Linked DNA regions of Homo sapiens: region 2 is linked to region 1. A link means that fine-mapping ties the variant in region 1 to the expression of a gene that starts in the linked region. Tissue or cell type: whole blood. Region 1 holds a variant in brackets; the other region holds the start of a gene. All regions are shown on one strand. Distances are from middle to middle. Region 1 overlaps HDHD5 (haloacid dehalogenase like hydrolase domain containing 5). Region 2 holds the start of TMEM121B (transmembrane protein 121B).

Region 1 (13,946 bases):
CAGGGTCTCACTCAGCCGCCAAGACTGGAGTGCAGTGATCACAGCTCACTGCAGCCTCCAACGCCTGGGCTCAAGCAACCCTCCTGCCTCAGCCTCCTGAGTAGCTGGGACTATAGGCATGCGCCACCATATGTGGCTTTTTTTTTTTTTTTTTTGAGACGGAGTCTCGCTCTGTTGCCCAGGCTGGAGTGCAATGGTGTGATGTCAGCTCACTGCAACCTCTGCCTCCCAGGTTCAAGTTATTCTCCTGCCTCTGCCTCCCGAGTAGCTGGGATTATAGGCATCCATCACTGTGCCCAGCTAATTTTTGTATTTTTAGTAGAGACGGGGTTTCACCATGTTGGCCAGGCTGGTCTGGAACTCCTGACCTCAGGTGATCCACCCGCCTTGGCCTCCCAAAGTGCTGGAATTACAGGTGTGACCCACCATGCCTGGACAATTTTTTAAATTTTTTTGTAGAGACGGGGTCTCACTATGTTGCCCAGGCTGGTCTTGAACTCCTGGGCTCAAACAGTCCTCCTGTTTCAGCCTCCCAAAGCGTTGGGATTACAGGTGTAAGCCACCGCAGCCAGCCTCTGGGCCATTCTCATAAATTCAGGGAACAAAACCCTTAGCCAGATGTGCCTCCAAAGAAGCATGGACAAATCACAGCTCTGCAGGAGGGCTTGCAAGGTCAGCGACACAGCCAATGCAGGGCACTGGAGGAGTGAAGGATGAAGACACAGCCCAACCCATGCTCCTTATTACCGTGGTCTTTAGCCGCCGCTCCAGGTCCACCATGTCAAGCAGAGGAAAGGCCATCCGCAGCTCATCCACGGTGACGACATTTCGGAAGCCCAGTCTGGAGCAAGCTCAGGAAGTAATGCTGGACAGTTCTTGGGGAAGATGCCTTTCTGAATGCATCAAATCACAAGTGAAGGGAACACAACCCACTCCTGATCAAGCCAGGCAGGAGGGCACCAAGCAGAGCCCAGCAAGGATGGCACAAATCCTGCAGGTGCTGGCAGGCAGGCTGTAACTGCACAGGTAGAGTAGAGAGGGCAGCTCCTGGGTAACCCACCAGCAGTCACCAGGCACATGCCAGCTACCAGGTCCTATGCTGGGCACAGCCTAGGGGGCAAAGGCACATAAGAATCTCTGTCCCCAGCTGGGTGCAGTGGCTCATGCCTGAAATCCCAGCACTTTGGGAGGCTGAGGCAGGAGGATGGCTTGAGCCCAGGAGTTCCAGCCAGCATGGGCAACATAGTGAGACCTTGTCTCTACAAATAAAGTCAGCTAGGCATGGTGGTGCACACCTGTCGTCTACTCAGGAGGCTGGGGCAGGAGGATCATTTGAGCCCAGGAGGTCAAGGCTACAGTGAGCTATGATTGCACCACTGCACTCCAACTTGGGCAACAGAGTGTGACCCTGTCTCAAAAAAAAACAAAAAACTCTGTCCCCAAGGAGCTAGCACATTCAGAGCCCATCAAAACCAGTGTTCTCTGAGAACAGTGCTGCTAGTCAGTGCTGAGTTCAGAAGAGACTCCTCAGTGGGCTGGGGAGTCCAGAGGAGTCATGGAGAAGTAGGGCTGGAGCTAAAATCTTAAAGGATGAACCCAAATCATCAAGGAAGAGGCGGCCTTGGGGAGGGGCAAGCCAGCTTCAGCCTATCTCCTCTAAGATCTGCCTCCATTTTCCTATCCTCAATTCCAACTTGCAATCTTAACTGGACATGGTTTGATTACTCTCAAAATGAATTTCCCCAAAATCCTGATTCTATCAGATTGCCCCATCAGCAATAAAGCGTGCCCTGCTTTCCACTGCCCTGAGAAGTCGGTCAGACTCCTCAAGTTTACTTCCAAGGTTCCCGACAACCTGGCACCACCCTTCCTGTTCTTTCCTTCCTCTCCCTATCCCATTCCCAACCTCCTACTTCCCCTGCTTAGGAGCTTAGCCATCTCCTGGGGCTCCGCTGTACCCCTCCAAGAAGCCACAGGCAACTCCTGCCCCAGGGATACTCCAAGCCCTCCCCTCCACACCTGTGGCGCCCTCCTGTGAGCTTACCGGCCTTCAATCACATGCCATCGCACACGCTCCACACCTGTGACGCCCTCCTGTGAGCTTACCGGCCTTCGATCACACGCCATCGCACACGCTCCACACCTGTGGCACACTCCTGTGAGCTTACAGGCCTTCGATCACACGCCATCGCACACGCTCCACACCTGTGGCGCCCTCCTGTGAGCTTACCGGCCTTCAATCACACGTCATCGCACACGCCCCACACCTGTGACGCCCTCCTGTGAGCTTACCGGCCTTCGATCACACGCCATCGCACACGCTCCACACCTGTGGCACACTCCTGTGAGCTTACAGGCCTTCGATCACACGTCATCGCACACGCCCCACACCTGTGACGCCCTCCTGTGAGCTTACCGGCCTTCAATCACACATCATCGCACACGCCCCACACCTGTGACGCCCTCCTGTGAGCTTACCGGCCTTCAATCACACGTCATCGCACACGCCCCACACCTGTGACGCCCTCCTGTGAGCTTACCGGCCTTCGATCACACGCCATCGCACACGCCCCACACCTGTGACGCCCTCCTGTGAGCTTACCGGCCTTCGATCACACGCCATCGCACACGCCCCACACCTGTGACGCCCTCCTGTGAGCTTACCGGCCTTCGATCACACGCCATCGCACACGCCCCACACCTGTGACGCCCTCCTGTGAGCTTACCGGCATTCGATCACACGCCATCGCACACGCCCCACACCTGTGACGCCCTCCTGTGAGCTTACCGGCCTTCGATCACACGTCATCGCACACGCCCCACACCTGTGACGCCCTCCTGTGAGCTTACCGGCCTTCGATCACACGCCATCGCACACGCCCCACACCTGTGACGCCCTCCTGTGAGCTTACCGGCCTTCGATCACACGCCATCGCACACGCCCCACACCTGTGACGCCCTCCTGTGAGCTTACCGGCCTTCGATCACACGCCATCGCACACGCCCCACACCTGTGACGCACTCCTGTGAGCTTACAGGCCTTCGATCACACGCCATCGCACACGCCCCACACCTGTGGCGCACTCCTGTGAGCTTACCGGCCTTCGATCACATGCCATCGCACACGCCCCACACCTGCGACGCCCTCCTGTGAGCTTACCGGCCTTCACATGCCATCGCACACGCTCCACACCTGTGGCACACTCCTGTGAGCTTACCGGCCTTCGATCACACGCCATCGCACACGCCCCACACCTGTGGCACACTCCTGTGAGCTTACCGGCCTTCGATCACACGCCATCGCACACGCCCCACACCTGTGGCGCCCTCCTGTGAGCTTACCGGCCTTCAATCACACGCCATCGCACACGCCCCACACCTGTGGCACACTCCTGTGAGCTCACAGGCCTTCGATCACATGCCATCGCACACGCTCCACACCTGTGGCGCCCTCCTGTGAGCTTACCGGCCTTCGATCACACGCCATCACACACGCCCCACACCTGTGACGCCCTCCTGTGAGCTTACCGGCCTTCGATCACACGCCATCGCACACGCTCCTTTACTGCTCATGGTGTTATTCTTGCCTCCAGCACAAGCCCTTGATTGATTCATAAGTCCTACGCCCTCATCCTGGTCCTCGTCCCATTCAGAGTGTGCGGCAGACCGCTGGTACACAGGACGTGCTCAGCACAACAGTTGCTTAAAACGGGCCAGGTATTATTCCGCAGGCTCCCAGAGACAGGCTCCCGGTAGCTGCTTCACTACCACTGGCTAATAAACTGACTGGGCACCCCAAGGAAGAGGCTAGAGCAGGGGTTCCCAAACCCAGTTACAGAACCACTAAGAGAGGTGTTTTGTTTTTTAAAAAATACAGATTCCTGAGTTTTACCCGAGACCTAGTGAATTAAGGCTCCAGCGCAGATACCCTGGGATCTGTATTTTAAGCTCCCCAGAGGATTCTGATGCAGGGGTATGAGAACTGGCTTTTGGAAACCACCAGACATGAGGACTGACCACAGTCGGGAGCTGTCCTCCCTCCCCTGAGCCCACAACATCGCCTGTGTACCCCAGCACCCAGCACTCCTCACTACAGTCCCCACTCAGCTAAGGGAGGAAACACCTCAGCCCTGCCCCTTCCCTTCAGCCAGAGTTAAGACCAAAAGGATACCCCTGGGCATTTTCCATCACGGGCCCCTGTCCAGACACCAGCATCCGCTTCTCATGGTACTCGGAGAAGAGCTTCATGGGGCTGTGAGAGAGGATAACTTGGTCTGCATCCACCTGTAGGGACAGCCAAGACAGGGGAGGGCAGAGGAAGACAGAACTGTTGAGGGAAATAATGAGACAGGTGGCAGGTCCTTTAGCCTAGGGAAGGAAAAAACCCGCTCAGAAAAAGAACGGGGAGGAAAGCCCTTTCTAGCACCCAGCAGCACTTCTGAAAGGCACCCAAACAGATCTGAGAAGAACCTGTCTCATTTAGTTCTTGCCACACAAGAGACCAGAAATGCCACAGATGTGGGTTCTGACCACTTGCCACCGCTACCCCGTCAGGTTCAGTTTGGATTTCCCAAGCCCCCACTTGGAAGCCATAGGGTTCATGTGTGCTCCCTGTCACTGTCGCAGAAACTGGTCTTTTACTTTCTATTTTCATTCCTGCTAAGAGTTAGCTGCTTAACATTTATACTAACCCTAACAATGCAGCCTTTACTTGGAAGGTTTTTGGAATTCTCTCTGGAAATCACAGCAAGGAACCAATTTGATTCCGTCACATTTTACATGCAACTTTGAGCAGCATCATCTAATCAATCAGCTATTTTATTTACTCTCCTGGTTCCAAAGGACTCTTTCCAAAAGCTGAATTCACCCTCAACAAACAAGAATGCATCAAAGTTGGGATATGGTGCAGGGCTGCAGGTGGCTGAGGAGGACAGCACTCCTTCAGGTGCACACATCATACCCAGGAAAGCCAAGGTGTGACGCCAGAGCCACACCTGCTATTCCTGCTATGCAAGTTCTAGACATGTGTGTGACCTTTGCTTTCCAGGGACTCACACCCCCAATGCCCAGAAGAAAAGAAACAGATACAAGGACATAATCTACAACTGCCAAATACACAGGCAGGATTTCTGTGTTCAGCTGTGGCCATGACCTAGGACTAGGTGATTCCATATCCCAACCCAGGGGAAAGGGACTTGGAGCTGGGGCAGCGGCTCCATTAGGAACCAGGTCCTTGGGCTTCCATGCCTCTGGCTGCCTTCTCACCTCGCACCCCAGCAGGGCTGACAGCTCCTGGGCTTTGCTGTGTTGTAAGATGTTCCCAGCATTTGTAACAAAAACCACGGGCACCCGCAGCTGCCCCTGGGAGTTCACCAGCCTTCGGAAGGCTTTCAGAGCAGCAGGGATCACTCTGTGGCCCCGCACAAGCACTCCATCGATGTCCAACAGGAACCCAAAGGTGGGTGGGCTCTGCAGAGATGGTAAGATAATTACCAGTACGTGAGTAACAAAGAAACAACCCTTACAAAGAGAGGCTCAACACCATCCTCGGGTCACTCATGTCCCTTGAAAACCTATGTCAGAAAGAACAAAAAAATGAAGATGGGATTCTGATAGGGCAATCTTTAAATAGAAAATAGAGAAATCCAAAGAAAATATAATCCCAACACTTATTTTTAATCATTCGCTTTTACAGAGTCTTCCCGTTGCCCAGACTGGAGTACAGTGGCATGATCACGGCTCACTGCAGCCTTGACCCACTGGGCTCAAGGGATCCTCTCGCCTCAGCTTCCTAAATTTAATGCTAGGATTATTAGGCGTGAGCCACCGAGTCCAGCCTAATCCCAACACTTTAAAACAACCAATTAATAGTTCCCCTTTTTTCTCTATTCTCATATTTGTCTTGTAGCTACAAATGAACTATATGCCATTTTACATCATCTCGTTCTTTTTTGCTTGACATATCATAAATATTTTTATGGATTACAATAGTCTTTATAACCATCTTTTAAGATTTTATTATAGCAAAAAGTTAAAAACAAAATAACCTCAATCACTACAGACAATATAAAAATGTTTCAAAAGTTTCTTGTCTCCAACTTACTTAGTCCTATTCCTGTCCTGCATAATTTCCAGAAGGCTTTTATAAATCTATAGTATACACACCTTTCTAATGTTAACACACACATAGAATCATGTTGACTTTGTTTTCCATCTTACTTTTTTAGTTGGTATCTCTTGGCTGTCTTTTTTTTTTTTTTGAGACAGAGTCTTGCTCTGTCGCCGAGACTGGAGTGCAGCAGCGTTATCTCAGCTCACCGCAACCTCTGCCTCCCACGTTCAAGTGATTCTTCTGCCTCACTCTCCCGAATAGCTGGGATTACAGGTGCACCCCACCATGCCCACCTAATATTTGTATTTTTAGTGGAGACGAGGTTATGCCATGTTGACCAGGCTGGTCTTGAACTCCTGACCTTAGGTGATTCACCCACCTTGGCCTCTCAAAGTGCTAGGATTACAGGCTTGAGCCACTGCACCCTGCCCTATCATTCCATATTAATTATGCATAGCTCTATTTCCTAAACATCATTTCTGGCTACATACTATTCTGAGTGAATAATTCACTAATATTGTTCTCTATATTTTGGACAGTTAGGTTTTTCCACAATTTTGCTATGAAAAATAATGCTACAAGGAACCTCTTCAGGAATACTGATTTTTTTCCCATATTATGGGTATTTCCTTGAGCTAGATTCTTAAAAATAGGAGTAATAAATCAGAGAGAGCAAATGTAATTACATAAACACCAACTGACAAACTGCTGTTCAAAAACATGTCCACTGGCAACGTACTTTACCCTTACAATATTGATTTTCACAACTGTTAATTATCAAACTTTTTTATAATTTAAAGGTAAAAAAATTATCTCTTTTCTATCTGCATTTCCTGGATTTATAAAGCTGAATGCTGTTTTTAAAAATCATTCCATTTCTCATTTTATAAACTGCCTGTTAACATACAAGATGTTCTTCAATCATCAAAAAAACCTAACCTAACTTGTTTGCTATTTTTCTTTGTTGGTGCCAACTAGGTCAAGTCATTCTTACTGACACACCTACTCTACGCACAGAGCTCCCTTTATAGAGCAACCAGAAACAGAAATGGCGCTACAGGCCAGGTGTGGTGGCTCACGCCTGTAATCCCAGCACTTTGGGAGGCTCAAGAGGGTGGATCACTTGAGGTCAGGAGTTCAAGACCAGCCTGGCCAACATGGTGAAACCTCGCCTCTACTAAAAATACAAAAATTAGCTGGGTGTGGTGGTGGGCGCCTGTCATCCCAGCTACTCGGGAGGCTGAGGCAGGAGAATCACTTGAACCTGGGAGGCAGAGGATGCAGTGAGCCGGGATCGTGCCACTGCACTTAAGCCTGGGCGACAAAGCTAGACTCTACTAAAAAAAAAAAAAAAAAAAAAAAAAGAAGAAGAAAGAAAGAAGAGAAGAGAAGAGAAAAGGCGCTCCAGTACCTACTTTTTAGCTAAGGTGACAGAGCAAGCAACCAGCCTAGAAAGCAAACTCTAAAACAGCAGCATTTTTGCAAGTGCAAATCAATTCTAGGTAAGTTCTAAATAAATAAACAGAATTAAACAAAGGCAGTTTCTTCAAAGAGAATTTTGAGCCAGACAATGAAAGTGTTAAATACATCCTGTAACAAAACTCTTTGCACCCCCCAGTCACCCCCAGACTAGATGAGTGGTTCCTGCCTGCCTACCTGGTTCAATGAGAAGACAATTAGACAGGCAGCCCCAGGACAGTCTACAGGGAGCCTTGCACTAAGAGATAGGCCCACACCAGAGGAACCTGACCCACAGGGGTGGGGAAGATTGGCCATCACAGGTCTCCGAGGCCAATTTAAGGAGTTTGAAAATGGAAAGTGGTATCATCAGACCTGAACTATAGAAAAAAATTTGGCTGCAGAGAAAAGACTGCATTGGGTGGACTGAAGGGAGTTAACTGAAAGACCAGGTGGGACCAAATGCAACCCAAGACAGAGAAGATGGAGCATTTACCTGGGAGAGTGGTGGTAAGAATGGAGATCAGGGGGCATTATCAGAGACAGAACAGTCATGACTTGGTAACCATCCAGATACAGGGGTGGAGGGAAGAGGGAGCCACACGGACTCCCATGCTTTTTTATTTTGGTCTGGGAACCCGGGAGGGTGGATGCGGGTATGAGTCACTGAACCAAAGGGCACAGTAGGAGCGGGCAGCGAGAGGTCATTGGAGGATACAAGGTTAAGTCCCACTTTGGACCTGGGAGACAGGCAAGTGGAGACATCAGCACTGGACAGGTCCTGGAGATGAAAATTTTGGAAGGTCTCGCCTCTCAGAGAACCAGGAAGAACAATACTACTTAATAATGGACCACACAAGACCTGCCAGCAAAAGACAGTGCAAGGAGGAAAACCAAGAGCGTGTGGGGTCCAGGAAGCTGAGGTATGTCTCGGGTCCAGTAAAACAGGGACTGGAGTGGCTGTAATGATCCCATCTTCTTTCCACTGAACAGGCAAGAC[C/G]CCCGGGAGAGGCAATCTTCCAGCTCCTCCTCCATGTTAGCTTGTACATGAGCCCTCCAAGCTTGGACAATGACAGCTACAGAGCCAAGCAGGAGGAGGGCAGGGACCCTGGAAAAACAGGAGGAAGCAACTCGAGCCAACAAGATATCACACCTGAACACCAAAAAACAGCTGCCAAGAGAAAACTGACCAAGCCCCACACGCCACACAGGAAATGCCTGGACAAATGGTGCCTCTAACCCTTGGCTTCACAGGCTTATGCTGTTGCACCCAGACCTGTCACTGTCCCAAGCACTCAGCCAGACATGTAACAAAGGCATTTTTATGTATTCTTTTTGGCAGCCCTTTGAGGAAGTGTCAGCATCTCCAAATGGCCTTGCCTGGCAAAATGTGCCGGTTTATACAAGGTGTTCAATATACAGGCACTAAATTACCTGACTGGACAAATAAGGCATCAACCTCAAAAAGAACTCAGCAAGGGTCACCCAGTTCACAAGTGCTGGATTCAGGATTCAGTCTCAAATTCAGCTGGCAACTCGGCAGCACCTCAGAGAAAACAGGGGACCCCAGGACTGCTTCCCCCACCTCCTGCCAGCTCCCAGCTGTGAGTTCCATTTCTTCTCTCTCCTCAATACACTCATGTACCCTCAAGGATCCCTGGAGCCCCTCCCTATTCCCCAAGAAATCTCACTAGAATGGGGGTCCTAACCTAGGCCCACAGATAGATTTCAGGATGGCCATAAATCCCCTTTAAACACTACAAGCATTTTTCCTGGGAAAAGTAACCATAGCACTTTTCGGATTTCATTTTCTTATTCTTCTCAAGGAGAATCACTACCTGGGCTTAAAGGGAGGAGGGGATGTGATTTGCCCTTTACCCCCATACCTGACACAGTGCTTAGACTCACAGGTGATTGACAAAGGCTGACTGGATGCTGAATGACCCAAAGGATAAATGGTTAGGGAGAAATAGATACTTCCCGACCACCCTATCCCTTTCTGAAGGAAAAGAGTGGCTCTTAGAAAGTAAGTCCCTTAAGGACTGGGTGATTCCAACACTTTTTTGTGGCGTGATCTTGGCTCACCGCAACCTCCATCACCTGGGCTCAAGCGATCCTCCCACCTCAGCCTCCCAAGTAGCTGGGACTATAGGTGCGCACCACCAAACCCACCTAATTTTTGTATTTGGCAGAGATGCGGTTTCCCCAGGTTAGTCTTGTCTCAAAGCTGGTCTCCAACTCCCAACCTCAGGCAATCTGCCCACCTCGGCCTCCCAAAGTGCTGGGATTACAGGCGTGAGCCACCGCGCCCAGCCAACAATTTTTTTAAGAAACAGTGTTTCTTTAAGAAACTTGGCTGGGCACAGTAGCTCACGCCTGTAATCCCAGCACTTTGGCAGGCCGAGGTGGGCAGATCGCCTGAGGTTGGGAGTTCGAGACCAGCCTGACCAACACGGAGAAACCCTGTCTCTATTAAAAATACAAAATTAGCTGGGCGTGGTGGCACATGCCTGTAATCCCAGCTACTCGGAAGGCTGAGGCAGAATTGCTTGAACTCGGGAGATGGTGTTTGCAGTAAGCCAAGATCACATCGTTGCACTCCAGCCTGGGCAACAAGAGGGAAACTCCATCTCAAAAAATAAATAAATAAAAACAAAAAATAAATAAATAAATTTTTAAAAGGCCTAGATTTTAAGTGATATTAAGGAATTACTAATGTTGTTAGGTATGATACTGGCATCGTGGTTATGTTCAGAATGTCCTTATTTTCTTTTTTTTTTTTTTTTGGTTGAGACAAGACAGGGTCGCACTCTGTCACCAAGGCTGGGTGCACTAGTGTCATCTCAGCTCACTGCAACCTCAACCTCCTGAGCTCAAAGGATCCTCCTGCTTCAGCTTCCCAAGTAGCTGGGACTACAAGTATGTGCCACCACATGCCTGGCTAATTTTTTTTTTTTTTTCTTTTGTAGAGACAGGGTCTCCCTATGTTGCCCAGGCTGGTCTGGAACTCCTGGGCTCAAGTAATCCTTCCAACTCCCAAAGTGCTCAGATTACAGGTGTGAGCCATGGCACCCAGCCAGAATGTCCTTATTTTTCTTAGAGGTACACACAGAAGAATTTAGGTTTGAAATGACAAGAAATCAGAGATTTACTTTAAAATCTTAGAGCCACAAAAAAAGGAGGAGGGAGATAAGCAAAGCAGGTGTTGAAAAATGTTAATCATTGCTCAATCTGGGAGATGGGCACAGGGGTTCATATTATTCCCCATTTTTGAATTTTTGAAAACTTACATAGTTAAAAAACAGCTCATTTGTACAATGGTTGCAAAATTTACCATACATAGTTTTAACGGTCATTGCCTAAACAGTCACAAGATTTGCTTTCCTTTTTTTTTTTTTTTTGTTTGGTTGGTTTTTTTTGAGACGGAGTCTCACTGTCACCCAGGCTGGAGTGCAGTGGTGCAATCTCGACTCACTACAACCTCTGCCTCCTGGGTTCAAGTGATTCTCCTGCCTCAGCCTCCCAAGTAGCTGGGACTACAGACGCGCGCCAACACACCTGGCTTATTTTTTATATTTTTAGTAGAGACGGGGTTTCACCATATTGGCCAGGCTGGTCTCAAACTCCTGACCTCGTGATCCGCCCGTCGCGGCCTCCCAAAGTGCTGGGATTACAGGCATGACCCACCGCGCCCGGCCCAAGATCTGCTTTCTTAAAAATAAGAATCCATAGCCCCTGCTACTTAGAACAGCAAAGTTTTCAGGAAAATTGAGCAATATCCATAAGGCTCCCTCACCCATCACTCCAACCCCTCCCCAACCTTCAGGATGTACACAGAGAACCAGGCACCCAGTACCATAAAAAGTGAAGGTGTACATCAATTATAACAAATGTACCACACTAATGCAAGATGGTAATACAGTCACGCACCATAACGATGTTTCAGTCAATGACACACTGCATATACAATGGTCCCTTAAGATTATAATGGAACAGGAACTCATAGCTGAAGAAGAGGCAAGAGAAAAGGTAGCCACAGAAAGAAAAGAACATCCAAGAAAATTCACAGTGAAGGGTTCAGCAGCTTTTACAGACCTCAAGTTCCTTAAAAAGTCTGAAACATGAACTCCAACGCCAAAAGGTTTTCATTACTAGAGAAGAATGTTTATGGTACATTATCTGTTTACAAGCAAACCTATGACAAAAAAAAAGAAACCAAGCAAACCACAATGGACATATTTCTGATAAGAGTGACACCTCAAGAGCCTCAGAGAGGTCCTTCAGAAGATATCCAGAAGAAAGCACTGTTATCGCAGATGACAGTTCCATGCATATGACTGCCCCCTAAAGACCTTCTAATGGGACATGGTGTGAAGGCAGAAGACAGTGATATCAATTACCTGACCCGACCTTATGTAGGCCTGGGCTAGTAGGTGTTTGTGTCTTCATTTTTAACAAAAGTTAAAAAAAAAAATTTTTTTTAAGGTAGGGCACTGTGGCTCACGCCTGTAATCCCAGCACTCTGGGAGGCCAAGGCGGGCGTATCATGAGGTCAGGAGTTCGAGACCAGTCTGGCCAACATGGTGAAACCCCATCTCTACCAAAGATACAAAAAATTAGCCGGGCGTGGTGGTGCACACCTGTAATTTTTTTTAATAGAAAAAAGCTGCCTGTAATCCCAGCATGTTGCAAGGCCAAGGAGGGCAGATCACGAGGTTAGGAGATCGAGACCATCTTGGCTAACACAGTGAAACCCCATCTCTACTAAAAATCCAAAAAATTAGCCAGGCGTGGTGGCAGGCACCTATACTCCCAGTTACTCCGGAGGCTGAGGCAGGAGAATGATGTGAACCCAGGAGGCAGAGCTTGCAGTGAGCCGAGACCACGCCACTCCACTCCAGCCTGGGCAACAGAGCGAGCGAGACTCCGTCTCAAAAAAAAAAAAAAAGCTGGCTGGGCACGGTGGCTCATGCTTCTAATCCCAATACTTTGGGAAACCAAGGCAGGCGGATCATGAGGTCAGGAGTTCGAGACCAGCCTGGCCAACACAGTGAAACCCCGTCTCTACTAAAAATACAAAAATTAGCTGGGCGTGGTGGCAGGCGCCTGTAATCCCACGTACTTGGGAGGCTGAGGCAGGCGAATCACTTGAACCTGGGAGGCAGAGGTTGCAGTGGACCGAGATGGCGCCACTGCACTCCAGCCCGGGCAACAGAGCTAGACACCGTCTCACACACATACACACACACACACACACACACACACACAAAAGAAAAAAGCTATGGAACAATGATATAAATGAAGATATATTTAGTACAGCTGTACAATGTGTTGTGTTTTAAACTAAGTGCTATTACAAAAGAGTAAAAAATTTTAAAAATTAAAAACTTGGTAAAGCAAGAAAGTTAAACTAAGGTTAATTTTCTTTTTTTTTTTTTTTGATAAGAGTCAGGATCTGTTGCCCGGGCTGGAGTGCAATGGCCCGATCTCCGCTCACCGCAACCTCCCTCCCAGGTTCAAGGGCTTCTCCTGCCTCAGCCTCCCGAGTAGCTGGGATTACAAGTAATAGATCCATTACATAGATGGGGAAACTGAGCTTGGAAAGCTATGTAAATTGCCTTAAGTGAAGCCGCTAACAGACTGCACAGGATTCAATTCTAAAGCTCGTGCTCAAACTCTGTCATCCTGCATTCTTCTTTTTCTGCTCTACCGGAAGAGTCACTTGGAGACATTTCGGGACTCTGCAGAGATGCTAGAGCCAATACAACAGTTATAAATAAGGGCGATATTTCCTTATATTTATATCCTGACAGTTTGTAAGTCCTTTTATCAACATATTCTAATTTCAAACTTCCACCTTGGTCACGTCTAGCTATGTGACACTGGCCAAGTCACTCAGCTGCTTTGAACCTTAGCTGCTCCATATTTAAAAATCATAAAAATAATACAGCTGTTAAGAGCTTAGACTCTGGCACCAGACTACCTGAGTTCCAGATTCTGCCACTTACCAGCTGTGTGCCCTTGGGTAAGCTGCTTAACCTCTCTGTGCCTCTGCTCCATCTATAAAATGGGAAGACTAATAATAGTACTTTCCTCGGAGTTGTTATAAAGATTATACGAATAACTGTGAAGTACTTAGAATAGTGCCTGGCACAAAGTAAGCACTATGTGTTTTTTTCATGCAAGTAATTTGGCCGGGTGCACTGGCTCATGCCTGTAATCTCACCACTCTGGGAGGCCAAGATGTGAGGATCATCTGAGGTCAAAAGTTCGAGACCAGCCTGGCCAACATGGTGAAACCCTGTCTCTACTAAAAATACAAAAATTAGCCGGATGTGGTGGCGGGTGCCTGTAATCCCAGCTACTCGGGAGGCTG
Region 2 (16,246 bases), 29 kb before region 1:
TAGCGCCCTGCCAGCTGGGACTCCAGCAAGGCCCGGGGCACCTGAGGACAGAGTGAGATGGAGGGCCGCTGCTCCAGCAGCCGGGCCTGCATCCCACAAGTCAACTGTGTCGGACAGAGGATCCTTACAAAGAAGAGGCAGCAGGGTTGGGGGCTGGCCAGCTGCTCGTCCGCCCTAGGTAGCTTGCTCATCTGTAAAGTGGGTGGGGCAGGAGTTCCCACCTCATGGGGTCCTGGCAAGCCTGCAGTATCCCCGAGTGGCACCAGCCTGCTTCTGGGGCAGAGCAGTTTGTGCCCCCTGAGGTACCACTGATCCTCTTTCCCTGCTATTAGGTATTGCTCTCTTCCTCCGGTGTTTGCCTTTTCAGATTATAGAAGTAATATGTGTTCCCATATTTGGCGTCTCTCAGGAGCTCAGGAAGTACTTGGCTGAGTGAACATGTCCATTGTGGAAAAATGGCAACAATATGGATTCCATGGGTATATTTTATAGAAGAATATGAAGAAAAGCAGCTACCCCTAAACCCATTGCACAAGCTGTTCATGTTAATTCTGTACCCGACGCTTTCCCCACGGGGCCTCCCCTCACTCTGAAATGGCATCCAGGTCCATCTTGCCCTCCACCTCTGCATGGCTCTCCATGCCCCATCGCCTCTCCCAGATCCTAGCACTGGGTCCACACTCTCGCCCTGTCCATTTAGGTTGATGAAAGCAGGCAGTCACCCGGGTGGGCCAGTCTTGCCTGTGGGAGGAACATGCAGTCTCCTGTCTCATGGTTTGAAGTGTGCCAGGAAGCCTGGCCCAGCCCACCTCCCCCTGGAGTCCTTCCCAGGAGGAATAACCCCTTAGGTCATTGACTATAAGATGAGTTCGCTCACTGGATCCTTCCTCTCTGATGAGACAGGAAGAAGGTACACAGTGACCAGGTAGGAGGAGGAGAGGGAGTAGAAAGGAGGGATGCGGGTGGCTGGTCCCTGCATTTGCCTGCTTCCCTGCACGGGTGTCCCACTGGCCGCCTCTGCTCACCAGTGTCATGGGATTCTCTCAGAAGATGAAAACAGCCCCTGCTTTTTTGCTAGAATGGCTGAGCTTTCATGGAAAGGAAGCTGGACCCAAGCAACAGCCGACTACCGAAGGTTGCCTGGAGCAGTGCAGATGTGGGAGGAAGAAGGGCCTTGGTGCACACTGGCTTTTCTTCCTGACTGCAATGTGGCATTGTGCCAGCTACCTCCTCTTTCTCGGCCTCAGGAAAATGGAGAGAAAGCAGCCCTGAAGGTGGCTGTGACGAGGGAAGGGGCAGAGGGCCTGACAGTCAACCACGCGCTATATTTTCCTGTTCTTCCTTAGGGCAAGAACTGCATGGCCAGACTCAGGCAAGGCCTAGGTGTGGGCTGGGCATTGCCTACACGTGAAGAGATCACTCCGCGTCCCTACTGCACCTGTCACAAAGTGCCTTCTGATATGCCTGGCAAACCAAAATCGGTGAGCGCCAGCTTGCTTCCCTAGAAGACATTTCTAAATATTCATAACATGCTTGCTCAAATCAATCACCTTATTTTACATCCGCTCCAGGGAGAAATGAAGACATGGTCCTACGTTGTTCTGTAATTATTTTCTATGTAAATTTTGTTCCTTGTTACAATTATATATGTCTTAGGGGAAAGGACCATTTCACATGTGTCACCTCATGTGATTCTCACCACAGCCCTGTGATTGCTCCTGTTTTATAAATAATGACATAGTTCCAGTTGATGGCCAAAGCCACAGCTAACGAGAGGCAGAGAGAGCTCAGGCTCCCAGGAGCTTCCACTCTCAGACCTTGCCTCCCGGGCTGCCCTGAGTGAAACGCCTGCTTAGCATTTGGCACAGCCAGAAGCAGCAAGCTAGGGTCACAACACAGAGAGGGGCTGTGTAATACTGGCTGCCTCTGTGCTAAGAAAAAAAAAAAATCACTGTGTGTTTGTTTATTTTGGTGCAGGCCCAGTGTTCTTGCTTAGACTTAATACTACCCTTCATGTTAAAATAAAACCAAACAAAAACCCATGGCCTTGTTCTTCTTATTCATACGTAAGAATTTGTGCTTCTGGCTGGGGCAAGAGTGATAGAGGAGGGCACAGTATTTAAAAATTAGTTTCTCAAGATGTTCCCCCTTTGGAAAGCTACTCTTTTAGAAAGAAATGGGAAGCCGGGCGTGGTGGCACACTTCTGTAGTCCCAGCTACTTGGGAGGCTGAGGCAGGAGGATTGTTTGAGCCCAGGAGGTTGAGGCTGCAGTGAACTATGATGGCGCCACTGCACTCCAGCCCAGGTGACAGAGTGAGACCCTGTCTCAAAAACAAAGAAAAAGAAAGAAGGAAGGAAAGAAAAGTGAGAGAGAGCCGAGGGTGATGAGAAAAAATCGTTCTCAGGCTGAGTCCATTAGAGCTGAGCTGGCTGTGCCAACAAAGCATGTCAAGACACTCACCAGCTCCAGGCCACAGCTTCACTGCCTCCCTGAAAAACATGCCAACTGCCTAGAAGGGCCAAGGTGTACCCATAATGTTAACACAAACTTATAAAATAATGGCGAATGTCACAGTGACATTTAAGAATTTTGTAAGGAAACCAGGACAGAAAAGATCTTAAAACAAACCACACAGGAAGCTTGTCACAAGTCTCAAGTTTTTTATTTTCAGAACAGAGTCTGGTTTTATTTTTAAAAAGAGAAGGAAAAAAGTGATAAATGCTAGTGAGGTGCCACTTCCCTCCTTCTTCCAGGCTCTAACCGCCAGCTAGCTCTCTTTCACAAAACCCACGGATGCAGAATCAGGACATGTTAAAATGGAACAGTCTTTAGAGAGGGTCTAGTCTTTTTAAAATAAGTAAGGATTTGGGGACTAACAGAGAGGAAGCCCCTGACTTGCTGAATTGTTAGGAGCAGGCGGTTCTCGAGATTCTGAGCCCAGGATCCTTTTCTGTGAACCATGCACGTGCTGGCACTGGCCTCAGGAGACAGTGCCCTGCCTTGGCTGTCAGGTCCACGGAGAAATCTCAGGTTTGCCCCTTCACTAGGGATGCCCTAGAAAGCAAGGGCAAAGGAAGCTTTAGGGGTCATCGTGACTGGGGCAGGGGAAGTGAGTGCAAGGACTCAAGAAAAACACAGCAGAGGAAGGGACTGACCCTCTGAGCACACAGTGGTTGACCCACATGTGTAAAAGAGGGTGACTGGGGCTGAACTGGGGGCCTGATATCTGCCAGAATTGGCCAAGTTGCCATCAGCTTCTTGACATATCCAGGGAAGTGGCAGCTCATTGGAACTTATCACAGCCTCCCACCAAAAACCTAACAAACAGTACAGAGATTTTACAGTCAGGGAGGCCCAGCAGGAGATGGCCATCCAAACAATAGAAGGGGGGCAGATCAGGGGGCCAGCCAGCGGCTGGCCATGGCTCAGACACAATGTCCTTTCACAGTCACTGAGATTAGGTAGCAGAGAAACACAGCAAAGCTGGAGAGAGGACATGGGAACAGCGAGCAGCTGTTGGTACCCACCCAGGGCCCAGGCCCCAGAACCTTGAGTACAATCAAAGGGAGAGGAGAGGAGTCAGTGGGGGCAGGGGAAGAAGGCAGAAAAAAATACCAATTAAGTGTGAAATCCAGCCAGCTATTGGGCCACATAGGGTGAGGGACTGGAAGCACAGATTGTGCATGGAGTGTAAACATTTTCCCCCGCTGTTCCCTGCTCTGAGAGCATGAGGAGGCTCAAGAGAACTCTGGTCAAGCCTTCTGCCCCTCTTATGTCTGTCTACAAGGGTGTCTTCTGCTCCAAGCCCCCAAAACAGTTGTAAGAGGGGGCTTCAAGTGGGAGGCGGGGGCTTGGCCTGGGTGCTGAGTTAACGGCCAGTGACTTGGCACTTCTGACCCTCCCTGTGCACTCTGCAGCTGTGCCAGGCCCTGCCCCACACCCAGCCCAGGCACCCAAGCCCTCCCTCCGGCCTTCTCTGCTGGGGCTTCACACACCCAGTACAGAGCAGGGAATGTTCTGCAAGTGCAGCCTGGCTGGCTTCTCTCCCAGCCACCTTTACAGGGAGCATCAGGACCAGGGCTTTCAAGAGCCACAAACTCAAAAGAATGTGAGAGCTGAAATTACCTTCAACCTTAGAGATCACTCATCTAACTTCTACTTTTTTAATGTGAGAAAACAGGCCCAGGAAATAAAAATATGTCACTCAAAGCCAATGAGTGACAGAATCAGAACTAGAATCCACATCTTCTGGTAACTCGTCTAGAGTTTGTTACACTACATAAAACTTCCCAAACGTAAGAAGGGAGAAGGGGAAACAAAAATTCTTCAAGTTTCACCCCCACCACATCCTGTTGAGGGTGGAGGGAAGTGAGTATTTCCTGGCCTTGTTAGCTGCTGTCCTCCTGCACCCTTAAAATATGTAAAAATACTTATCCTGCCTCAAAGACTGCAAGAGTGACATTCCACACCGACTGTAAGTGCACAGTCCCCGGATGTCTCTTGTCATCACCCTCAATGAGAGGAAGAGGGAAAGTTCTGCAGCCTGCCTTGGCCCTAGTGAGACTCTTAACCAGACCAGAGGTGGGAGGTCACCACCTCACTTTCTGATCTACACTTCCTAGAGGAAGGACAGGTGGGGAATGGGGCTTCCTACTCCCTTGGGCCCATGGGAGGCCCAACTTCACATCCATCCAGGAAACCCACCAAAGCTATTACTCTAAGCCCAGATCCGACCCAGTCGGCACCAAACCACAGGAAGGATAAGAGTTCTAGGTGCAGAGGGAGGAACAGAGAGAGGCCAAGCCAATGGCTGATACTCCGCAGACCCTGTAATAACACTGGCACCAAACCCCAGCTGGAGCCAGTGGCCATGGCAAATGCAACTTCTGAGTATTTTGTCTTCATTTTTTGCAAGCAGCATCAGTGCATGATGCAACAAAAGTTGAAAGCACGGAGGTAGAAATGCTCACTCACCCAAGAAAGGGTGCAGTTTGGTCCTTAGAGAATGGATCCCCTCCTCTCCCTGAGCTGAGAAGAGAGGAGCAGTATTGAGGAAGATCCTGGGTGAGATTCTCCCTTCAAGGGGAGTACCTGGGCAGCTCCCAGGGGCCCAGCTCTTCCTGGGAATTCATGGTCACAAATCCAGGCAGAAAAGAGGAGGGTGGTGATAAGTATGGTGTAGGGGGCAGGGCCTCCCCAGATCTCCTACCCATTGCAAAGGGCCACAGGGTGGACACGAGAAAACAACACTACACACACAGAGACATACACTTTGTATCTATCACCTGGAAGAAATCCAAGAGACACATCAGTGGAAAGTGGGTTCTGGGTCAATTTCAAGGCATGGGACAATGGCCACTAACCACAGCCTAAAAGAGGCTGGCACTTCTAAGCAAGGGAGAAGGTCCAAGGCCCAGCACCCCTCTCCTCCTAATGGATGGGAATTAGAGTGGAGGTGGGCAAAGCAAGAAGCAGAGGTACCAGCCCCTTGGAGGTCAGGATTGGGGTAGGATAGGAGAAGAGAGGAGAGGGTAAGTGCACCTACCTCCCTCACCGTTAACTGCTGGTCTCCCTCCAAGCCGTCCTCACCCCAGGGTGCAGAAGAACACCCTGGCCCTTAGCCCTGAAAAGGGTTACCTCTTCCAAATAGACCCTGATCAAATCTAGGTGACAGAAGGTAGAAGACAAGGGGGTTGGGGACTCTCAACCCAAAAACAAGGACCCGTGCCCTTCACCCTCAATTCTGAGAGGCCACAGCCAGGGTGTTGACATAGCCATGAGCACCCCCCTCGTTCTCCGAGATGCAGTGGCCCAGCTGGGAGCCTCCCTGAGGTGGTGGCGGAGGTGGTGGAGGGGCGGAGGGCGGAGCACCGTAGCCCCCTCTGGCCCGACTCGGGGAGGCCCGATTGCCCCGGTCCCAGCAGCCCTCCAGGGCCTCCAGGCCCCGGCAGCCGAGGAAGAAGAGGTTCTTGAGCATGAAGATGGAGAGGGGCTGCTGGTAGCTGACCACCAGGAGGCAGCGCAGCGCCAGCAAGGGCACGTCCACCAGGCAGCCGCCCAGCAGGCGCAGAAGGCGGCTGCAGCTGCCAGGCCCGGAGGCCTGGCCCCAGGATGCAGCCGCTGCGGCCGCGGCGTTGAGCTCGTAGAGCCAGAGCACCGGCGAGGCGAGGGTGAGGAAGTAGACGGCGATAAGCAGGTAGCGCAGGTGCGCGGGCAGCGGCACGCGGCCCTCCAGCATCAGCTCCACCAGCGTGAAGCTGTCGAGCAGGTCCAAGCACGTGCCCAGGAAGCATCCGGCCGCGCGGTGCCGCTGGGGCTGCAGCAGCAGGGGTCCTGCCGATCCCGGGGGCGCGCCCGCCTCGCTGATGGCCCGCACCAAGCTGTAGAGCAGGGGCACCGACAGCGCCATGGTGAGACGGAAGCCCGTGGTGCCGAAGGGCGCGCGTAGCTCGATGAGGTCTAGGATGGACGTGCCCAGGATCAGCACCACCTTGGGAGTGAAGGCGATGGAGTAGATAAGCCAGGCCAGGTAGGCGAAGGCGAACTCGCCCGCTGCCGCGGCCGCCCCCAGGCCGCCCCCCGCGCCGCCGGCGCCCCCGCGGGCTCCGCGTGCCTTGGCCCCAGCGGTAGCGGCCGAGGGGGCGGGCAGATGCAGGGGCGGCGCGGCGTGGTGGTGGTGCAGGTGGTGGTTGTGCGCGCCGCTGGCTGCGCCGCCCCGACGGCCCCGGCTGTTCTTGGCGAAGAAGATGGCCCAGCCCACCACCACCACCAGGTCAGTGGCGATCCAGGAGCACCAGTACAGGTCGGTGACGGCGATGAGGTACAGGTCCAGCAGGCCGCCCTGCGCCAGCAGCAGCACCACGGACAGCGCCTGGTAGCCCCAGCGGCACCTGGGACTGGGGGCGCAGCCGCGGCGCCGACCTCTGCGGCCGGGGCGGTCTGGGCAGCCGCAGCAGCAGCAACACGGGCAGCAGGAGGCGCCGCTGCCGGTCCCGGTGCCGCCCGCGCCCCCCGCCGAGCGGCTCCCGGGGCCCCCGACGGCCCCGGCCGCGGCGCCCCCGCCGAAGTCCGCGGCTGTCATGCTGCAGGAGGAGGTGGGCGTGGAGGTGGAGGAGGAGGTGGCCGCTGAGGAGGAGAAGGCGACAGGCGCGGGGCCGGCGGGGGCGCCCACCTGAGCCGGCGGCCCCAGGAGCGCGGCGTTGGGCACCAGCGGCTTGCTGACGCTGAGGCTCTCGTCGTCGTCCTCGCGCTCGGCGCCCGTGCTGCTGCTCGGGGAGCCGCCGCCCCCGCCGCGTCTGCCGCCGCCTCCCCCGCGGCTGGTGCTGGTGCTGGTGCTGCTGTCGCCGGAGCCTCTCCGGCCGCGGAAGGAGCCCCCGCGGAGGAAGAGGGGCTGCAGCCGGGCGGCTGCCGGGGGCGGCGGGAAGGAACCGGACGCGGAGGAGACCGAGCGAGGGTGGCCGAGCGCCGGGCGCATTGTCCTCCGAGGGGCTCTGGGGCCGCCCAGCTGTTCCCTCCCCGCCAACCCCGGGCGGGCGAGGCGGGCTAGGCGGCCGAGGGGAGCCGGGGCCCGCCGCCTCCCCAGCAGTGGGGACTCGCACCTGGGCCGGGCGGCGGCGAGATCCGGACTGGAGCCACTGGACTGGGCGAGCCGGGCCGGGCGGCAGGGAGAGGGGGCAGGCGGTGAACCGAGCGGACCGCGGTGAAGACAGGCGAGGCGGGGGCGGGGCGGGGCGGGGCGGGGAGCGAGTCCCGCCGGGAGGGAGGGAGGCTGGCGGCGGGGAAACCAGGACTGGATTCGAGGGGGAGAGGAAGCAGCGAGACCAGAGGAGGAGAAAGCGCGGCGCGCTGGATCAACGGGAAGAGAAGGGGCGGGGGTGCAGTGCGTCACAGTCGGGTCGGGAGCCCTGTGGCCTGGAGGAAGCGGGAGGAGGCGCGGGCAGCCGCCAGGGCGAGGCGACCCGGTGCGGGGGGACTCCCATGGAGCGCGGACTCCTAAGGAAGTCGCTGGGAATCCCACCGGCTGTACCGCAGGGCGTTAGTACCTAGATGGCTTCGGTGCCCCCAAGCGATGGGCTCAAGCTACAGGGCGGGCTTTGCACCTGGCCTTCTCAGCTCTGAGGCAGGCAGTGGGCAGCTTCGCCTCCACCCTCCGTCCAGCGCCCTTCCCATGGGGCCATCCGCCTCTCCCTAAGGCACTAAAAACCAGTGGAGGAGTCAGGCCATGTTGGCAAAAAGGGCTCGGGCAGCAGCCCCAGACCTATAGTCCTAAATATCCATGTACCCAGCCCTGGGGTCGCGAGCCATCTCAGGGACGACCCGATTCCAGCGGATGGAGAAGTTCCCTGAAAACACCTGCCTGGGAGGAGAGACGAGGGAACGAGATTGGGCAAGTGGCATCCGCCCAGCGGGCTTCTCAAAGGTTTTTAAAGCAGAATGGGACGTAATAGGAAGATGTGTCTAGCAGAGAGTAAAATAAAGGGGCATTTAGAGGTGTGGGCACCTGGATGAAAACAAAGGCTCCAAAGGGATGATGGTGAGGGTTACAGCCCACCACAGTAGACAGAGACACCAAGGAAGGAATGCAGTCAGTGGCCCTGCGTAGACAGTCTCAGGAGAGAGCACACCAGCTCACCCCAGGACTCATCCAAGGCTGGGGATGGATGTCGATGCAGCAACTCTGGAAGGCAGAAGGTAGAGTGCTGCCTTTAGGGGTTTAAGGGAGAAGGAAATGACTAGAGCAGTTGGGGCTCAAAAACAATCTGAGGTTCACCAATAATGGAAACATCCCATTCCCAGCCCCATGAAAACAAGGCAGAAAGCTTGCCTGCCCTATTGGCCTCTGCACCCTTGTGGGGCCTGTGGGCTCCCTGATTTCATGACCTTTGAAGCTGCTGCTGCGGGCTCATCTCCCCTAGGTAACAGCTTGCAGCGTGATAACACCATGCAGTGTGAGGGAGCTGTATGCAGTGGAGCCGCAGGGGTTAGTCAGGCCTCGCCCCTAAATCTGCCTCTTAAATAAGAGTCCGTTTCAGCCAAACCTGCCTTTTCCAGTTCCGTGGAGGTCAGTCTGCACAGCCAATCCCTGGTAAATATACAATTTAGAACCTGCACCATCTCCACCTCCCCCACACACACCACTTTTGGAAAGCTGGCATGGTGGTGAGGGCAGGAGCTCTGGGGCCGCCATCCCACCTGTGCCACTTAACACCTTTGTGGTCTTAGCCTGAATATTTCACCTCAGAATGTTGATCTGTAAACAGGACCCCACCCCAGCCGGGCGCGGTGGCTCACGCCTGTAATCCCAGCACTTTGGGAGGCCGAGGCGGGCGGATCACCTGAGGTCGGGAGTTTGAGACCAGCCTGACCAACATGGAGAAACCCCATCTCCACTAAAAGTACAAAACTAGCCGGGCATGGTGATAATCCCAGCAATTTGGGAGGCAGAGGCGGGCAGATCACCTGAGGTCAGGAGTTTGAGACCAGCCTGGCCAACACAGTGAAACTCCGCCTCTACTAATAATACGAAAATTAGCCAGGGGTGGTGGCACGCACCTGTAATCCCAGCTACTCGGGAGGCTGAGGCAGGAGAATCGCTTGAACCCGGGAGGCAGAGGTTGCAGTGAGCCAAGATTGTGCCATTGCACTCCTGCCTGGGCAACAAGAATAAAACTCCATCTCAAAAAAAAAAAAAAAAGGACCTCACTCCTACCTTAAGGGATTGTTGTGAGTATGAAGAGAGATCATGTGTGTAATCTCTCTTCGATGACAGAGCCAGTCCCTGGCTCAGAGTCCATGCTCAGTTAAAGGTCTCTGTGTTATCATCATTCCATTAGCCCATGCCTTAGCCTCCCAGGGAACATCGACTCATAGCAGGGGCCACCAATGGCTGTTTTCTGCCTGGACTCTTGAGTTCTGCTCCCCAGTAGCGTTGCACTTTGGTAAGTGCCCAGGAACAAAGCTGCCATGGTTAGGAGCACTGATTCTTGGAGCCGGTCTTCTCAGGCTCACAGTGTGAGACATTCAGGGTGCCAGTTGGGGCCAGGGTCCACCCATGTGGGGCAGGGTGAGGTCAGGAGTTCAAGACCAGCCTGATCAATATGGTGTTTCACCAATACTCCGTCTGGGGGGAAAGCAAACAAACAAACACTTCAGTCCTACCTGAGGTGCCCAAAAATAAACAAACAAACAAAAAACCTGGCCGGGCACATTTGAGATCAGCCTGGGCAAGATAGCAAGACCTCATCTCTAAAAATAATTTTTTTTTTCAAGACAGAATCTTGCTCTATCCCCCAGGCTGTAGTGCAGTGGTGCGATCTCGGCTCACTGCAACCTCCGCCTCCCGGGTTCAAGCGATTCTCATGCCTCAGCCTCCCAAGTAGCTGGGAATACAGGCGCCCGCCACCACACCTGGCTCATTTTTGTATTTTTAGTAGAGACAGGGTTTCTCCATGTTGGTCAGGCTGGTCCCGAACTCCCGACCTCAGGTGATCTGCACGCCTCAGCCTCCCAAAGTGCTGGGATTACAGGCATGAGCCACCACACCTGGCCATAAAAATAATTTTTTTTTTAAGTAGCCAGACGTGGTGGCATGTGCCTGTGACTCCTAGCCACCCAGGAGGCTAAAGTGGGAGGGTCATTTGAGGCCAGGAGTTCGAAGTTACAATGAGCTATGATCATGCCACTGTACTCCAGCTTGGGTGACAGAGCAAGACCCTGTCTCAAAGAAAAGAAAAGAAACCTTTAGATTTCAAGTATATAGTAGTCCTCCCTTTATCCATGAGGGATTCATTCCAAGACCTCCAGTGGATGCCTGAAACTGAAGATATACATATACTATGTTTATTTTCCTATACATACCTATGATAAAGTTTAATTTATAAATTAGGTACCATAAGAGATTAAGAATAGTAACTAATAATAGAACAATTATAACAATATATTATAATAAAAGTGTATGTGAATGTGGTGCCTCTCTATCTCAAAATATCTTAATATTTTCAGACAGTGCTTTACCATGGAACTGAAACCATGAAAAGTGAAACTGCAAATGGGAGAGACTGCTGTATAGTCACTGAAAAATTAATGGATGAGCTCAACAGCAAATTAGACACAACTGAAGTGAGTAAATTTAACAATATATATGAAGACATTCTCTAGAATGTAGTACAGAGAGCTAGAGACTGAAAATATCTAGGAGACAAGAGACATGAGAGATAGATTGGAATATCCAAAATATGTCTAACAGAAGCTCCAGAAGGAGAATATAAAACAATAAGGGAAGGACAATACAGAAATTTGAACTGAGAATTTTCCAAAATTGGTGAAAGAACTTCTCCAACCCACAGATTTAGGAATTGCAATGAATCCTAAACAGGATGAATAAAAATAAACATGCTCCGAGATGTTTTCAAGTAAAATTGTAGAACTCTAGACAAGAAAAAGATCTTAAGAGAAATCAAACAGTAAAAAAAAAATTACTTACAACAAACAACAATTAGATTAATGGCAGACTTCTCATCAGAAATAACAGAAGTCAGAATGCAGTGGATGGTAGAAATAAAGCTAAATAATCAGTAATCACAATAGATGTCATATTAAACGACACATGATCAGATGGATTTTTTTTAAATGTCCAGTTATAGGCTTTTATAAGAAATATCCCATGGCCTGGCATGGTGGTTCACGCCTGTAATCCTAGCACTTTGGGAGACTGAGGCAGAAGGAACCCTCAAGCCCAGACTGGGCAACAAAATGAGATGCCATTTCTACCAAAAAAAAAAAAAACCATTTTTTTTTTTGAGGGACGCAGGTTTTGTTTTTGTTTTTGTTTTTTTTAATGGAGTTTCACTCTCGTTGCCCAGGCTGGAGGGCAATGGTGAGATCTCAGCTCACCACAACCTCCTCCTCCCAGGTTCAAGCGATTCTTCTGCCTCAGCCTCCCGAGTAGCTGGGATTACAGGCATGCGCCAACACACCCAGCTAATTTTGTAATTTTAGTAGAGACGGGGTTTCTCCATGTTGGTCAGGCTGATCTCGAACTCCTGACCTCAGGTGATCCTCCCACCTCGGCCTCCCAAAGTGCTGGGATTACAGGCGTGAGCCACCATGCCCGGCCTTCAAAAAATCGTTTTTAATTAGCCAGGTGTAGTGATACATGCCTGTAGTCCCAGCTAGTCAGAAGGCTGAAGTGGGAGGATCCCTTGAGCCCAGGAGTTGGAGGTTGCAGTGAGCTATGATCACGCCATTGCACCCCAGCCTGGGTGACAGAGCAAGACCCTGTCTCAAAAATAAATAAATAAAAGAAAAAGAGAAACATCCCTAAAATATAAAGACAAACAAAGTAAAAAAGGGCTGAAGAAAAAATACACAAATATAATTTAATGCATGTATATAATTAAACTAGGCAAATATCAACTTTAAAAAGTGGGTTTGGCAATATTAATACCAAAAAAATAAACTATATGACAAAGAATATTCTTAGGGATAAAGAAGTTCACTATGTAATGATAGAAGACAGTACACCATAGTAGTGAAGGGCACATACTCTATAGCCAGACTACCTGGATTCAAACCCTGACTCCACCATTTAGTTTTATTTTATTTTTATTTATTTTTTTTATTTTTTGGAGACGGAGCCTCACTTTGTCACCCAGGCTCGAGTGCAGTGGCACGATCTCGGCTCACTGCAACCTCTTCCTCCCAGGTTCAAGCAATTCTCCTGTCTCAGCCTCCCAAGTAGCTGGGATTATAGGCGCCCGTCACCACACCCAGCTAATTTTTTTTTGTATTTTTAGTAGAGACAGAGTTTCACCATGTTGGCCAGGCTGTTCTTGAACTCCTGACCTCAGGTGATCTGCCCACCTCGGCCTCCCAAAGTGCGGGGATTACAGGCATGAGCCACCGCGCCTGGCTGACTCCACCATTTAGAAGCTGAGTGACCTTAGGCAAATTACTTAATCTCTCTTTCCTTGATTTTCCCACTAGAAAATGGGGAAAATAATAGTACCCACTTCACAGAGTTGTTATGAGGAGTAAATGAATTAATAGATAGAAAGTGCTCAGCACAAAGTGCTATATACATATTTGCTGCTGTAAAAGGACCAAGTTCCAGAAAGACCATAGTTCTGAATGTGTGTGTATTCAATAACATTGCCCTAAAATATATAAATAAAAATGGGTAATATTTATGAGACACTGGCAAATAACCTAATGATAGTAAGAAATATAAACACATCTCTCAGTAATTGATAGTTCACACAGATAAAACATTGGTACAGATGTATACAAGTTGAACCATATCATTAACAAGCTTGATCTAAATGGCTGAATTTAGAGCTCTGTACCTCCAAAACTAGATACTACACATTGTTTACAATTTTACATGCAACATTTACAAAGCCTGACCATGTACAGACCAATCCTTTGACCTCACAACAATTAGATTAGAATAAAATAACAAAACAACGACCAACCACCCCCCACATATTTGGAAGTGTAAAGACATACTTCCAAATGAATCATCCAAAAATTAGAAAATATTTAGAACTAAATGAACATGAAAATACCACCTGTCAAAATGGATGGGACATAGCCAAAGCAGAAGAAGAACATTTATAGCTTTAAATGTTTGTGTTACAAAGGAGAAAATTGAACATTTAATAAGGTAAACATCCAACTTAATAAATTGGCTGAGCACAGTGGCTTGTCATTCCAGCACTTTGGGAGGCTAAGGCAGGAGGGTCACTTGAGGCTAGTAGTTTGAGATCAGCCTGGGTAACATAGCAAGACGTTGTCTCTATAAAAAATTAAAATATTAGCCAGGCATGATGGTACATGCCTGTAGACCCAGCTACTTGGGAGGCTGAGGTGAAGACCTCTTGAGCCCAGCAGTTTGAGGCTACAGTGATCCATGATCACACCACTTCCAGCCTAGGCAACAGAGTGAGATCCTGTCTCAAAATAAGTAAATAAAAGTTGGAGAAAGAAAAGCAAGTACAATGAAAACACAAAGAAGGAAATATGGTTGGGCATGGTGGCTCATTCTTGTAATCCTAACACTTTGTTTTTTGTTTGTTTATTTGTTTGTTTTGTTTTGAGATGGAGTCTTACTCTGTCGCCCAGGCTGGAGTGCAGTAGTGCGATCTCAGCTCACTACAACCTCTGCCTCCTGGGTTCAAGCAATTCTCCTGCCTCAGCCTCCTGAGTAGCTGGGACTACAGGCACACGCCATCATGCCCGGCTAATTTTTGTATTTGTAGTAGAGACGGGGTTTCACCATGTTAACCAGGATGGTCTTGATCTCCTAACCTCGTGATCTGCCAGCCTCAGCCTCCCAAAGTGCTGGGATTACAGGCGTGAGCCACCGCACCTGGCAATCCTAGCACTTTGAGAAGCCAAGGCATCAACTTTCAAATTGGGTAACAGGTAGAGGCTGAAAGAGTTTTGAGGTGTATGCTAGAAATGTGGACATTAAGGGTGATCCTGATGAGGACTCAGAAAGAAAAGAGGAGAGCTGTAGCGAAACCTCAATCTTCTTAGAGAATACCTAAGTAATCCTGAACAGAATGCTGGTGGGAATATATAGTAAGGCCATTCTTTATTTTTTTTTAATTTTTTTTTTTTTAACAAAGTCTCACTGTGTCGCCCAGGCTGAAGTGTAGTGGTGTGATCTTGCTGCAACCTCCACTTTCTGGGTTCAAGTGATTCTCCTGCCTCAGCCTCCCGAGTAGTTGGGACTACAGCTGCATGCCACCACACCCGGCTAATTTTTGTATTTTTAGTAAAGACGGGGTTTCACCATGTTGACCAGGCTGGTCTAGAACTCCTGACCTCAAGTGATCCACCCGCCTTGAGCTCCCAAAGTGCTGGGATTACAGGCAGTAAGGCCATTCTGATGGGGCCACAGATGGAAATGAAGAACATTTACTGGAAGCTGGACAAAAGGCCATCCTTGTTAGGAAGAAGCAAAGAGCTTAGCTAAATTGTGTTCATGTTCTATCATTTTGTGGAGGTAACAATTGCAAGCAATGAAACTTGCAATTGGATGTTTGGCTTAGGAAATCTCTAAACAAAGTATTGAAGGAGTTACCTAGCTCCTTCTGACTGCTTCCAATAAAATTCAAGAGAGACATAAATGACTTAAAGACAGAACTGTTAAGCAAAAAGTAATAAGAACTTGAAATTCTGAAAAATGATCAGCCCATCCATATAGAAAAGAACGAGAACCCAGTTTGGAGAGAACACTAACGGTGTTGCTCTGTTGCCAAGCTCCTTTAGTAAGAGTAGTATGGATCAGCCATTGCAACAGAAGCTAGGAGCTGTTCTCCAAGATAATGGAAGAAGGACCCTGAAGGCAATTCAGAGATCATGAGAGTTGGCACTCCCATCACCAGCCCAGAGTGCAAGGACCCACAGTGCAGAGCAGATTCAAAGGCTGGCCACCTCTCTGGTCCAGGCCAACCAAGGAGCAGGAATTAGGCCCTCACCAGACACCAAATCTGCTGATGCCTTGATCTTGGACTGTCCAGTCTCCAAAAGTATGAGAAATAAATTTCTGTTTTCACAGGACACCCAGTCTATGGTCTTCTAATAGCCTGAATGGACTAAGACATAGACCAATTGCACTTATGAACATAGACAAAGAACTCCTGAACAAATTACCAGCAGTAGCGGCCAGCAACATGTAACATAACCAACTTGGTTTTATCCCAGGGATGAAAGAAAGAGTTAAAGATGACAACAGGCTGGGCATAGTGACTCACGCCTGTTATCCCAACATTCTAGAGGCCAAGGTGGGAGGAGCGCTTGAAGCCCAGGAGTTTGAGAGCCGCCTAGGCAACATGGCAAGACCTCACCTCTACAAAAAATTAAACAATAAAATTAGCTGGGGTGTGGTGGCACATACCTGTAGTCCCAGCTACTTGGGAGGCTGAGGCGGGAGAATTGTTTAAGCCCGGGAGGTCGAGGCTGCCGTGAGCCAGGACTGCACAACTGTACTGCAACCTGGGTGACAGAGAGAGACCCTGTCTCCAAAAAAAAAAAAAAAAAAAAAGATAAAAACAAAATATATTAATATGGTTTACCATATTAACAGATTAAAGGAGAAGAACACTTAAGATCAACTCAACAAATACAGAGAAACAAACATTTAATATCTATTCATGAATTTCAACAAAAATTGAGCAAAACAAAATTTTTTGCTCTATTGGTCTTGCTCTGTTGTCCAGACCAGAGTGCAGTGGCAC

What was found. PIP is the estimated chance that this variant, and not a neighbour inherited with it, causes the effect.
Region 2: TMEM121B starts here. The variant in region 1 is fine-mapped to the expression of TMEM121B in whole blood (Lepik 2017, PIP 0.95).

Annotation. Positions count from the first base shown.
Region 1 is chr22:17,144,277-17,158,222 of GRCh38, forward strand. HDHD5 (haloacid dehalogenase like hydrolase domain containing 5) reads right to left here. Exons shown (of 8, transcript NM_033070.3): 2 at 5,266-5,469; 3 at 4,172-4,284; 4 at 748-841. Among named protein-coding and RNA genes, the nearest start is that of HDHD5, 8.0 kb to the right of the region's middle. The variant C/G (reference allele first, on the strand shown) is at 8,571.
Region 2 is chr22:17,113,652-17,129,897 of GRCh38, forward strand. It overlaps TMEM121B (transmembrane protein 121B), which reads right to left and starts at 7,709. Exons shown (of 1, transcript NM_031890.4): 1 at 2,646-7,709. The coding sequence starts at 7,476. The coding sequence ends at 5,740. It overlaps LINC01664 (long intergenic non-protein coding RNA 1664), which reads left to right and starts at 7,944. Exons shown (of 4, transcript NR_103793.1): 1 at 7,944-8,388; 2 at 11,004-11,120. It overlaps IL17RA (interleukin 17 receptor A), which reads left to right. Exons shown (of 13, transcript NM_014339.7): 13 at 1-2,042. RefSeq lists a silencer at 7,421-7,550 and an enhancer at 8,136-8,667.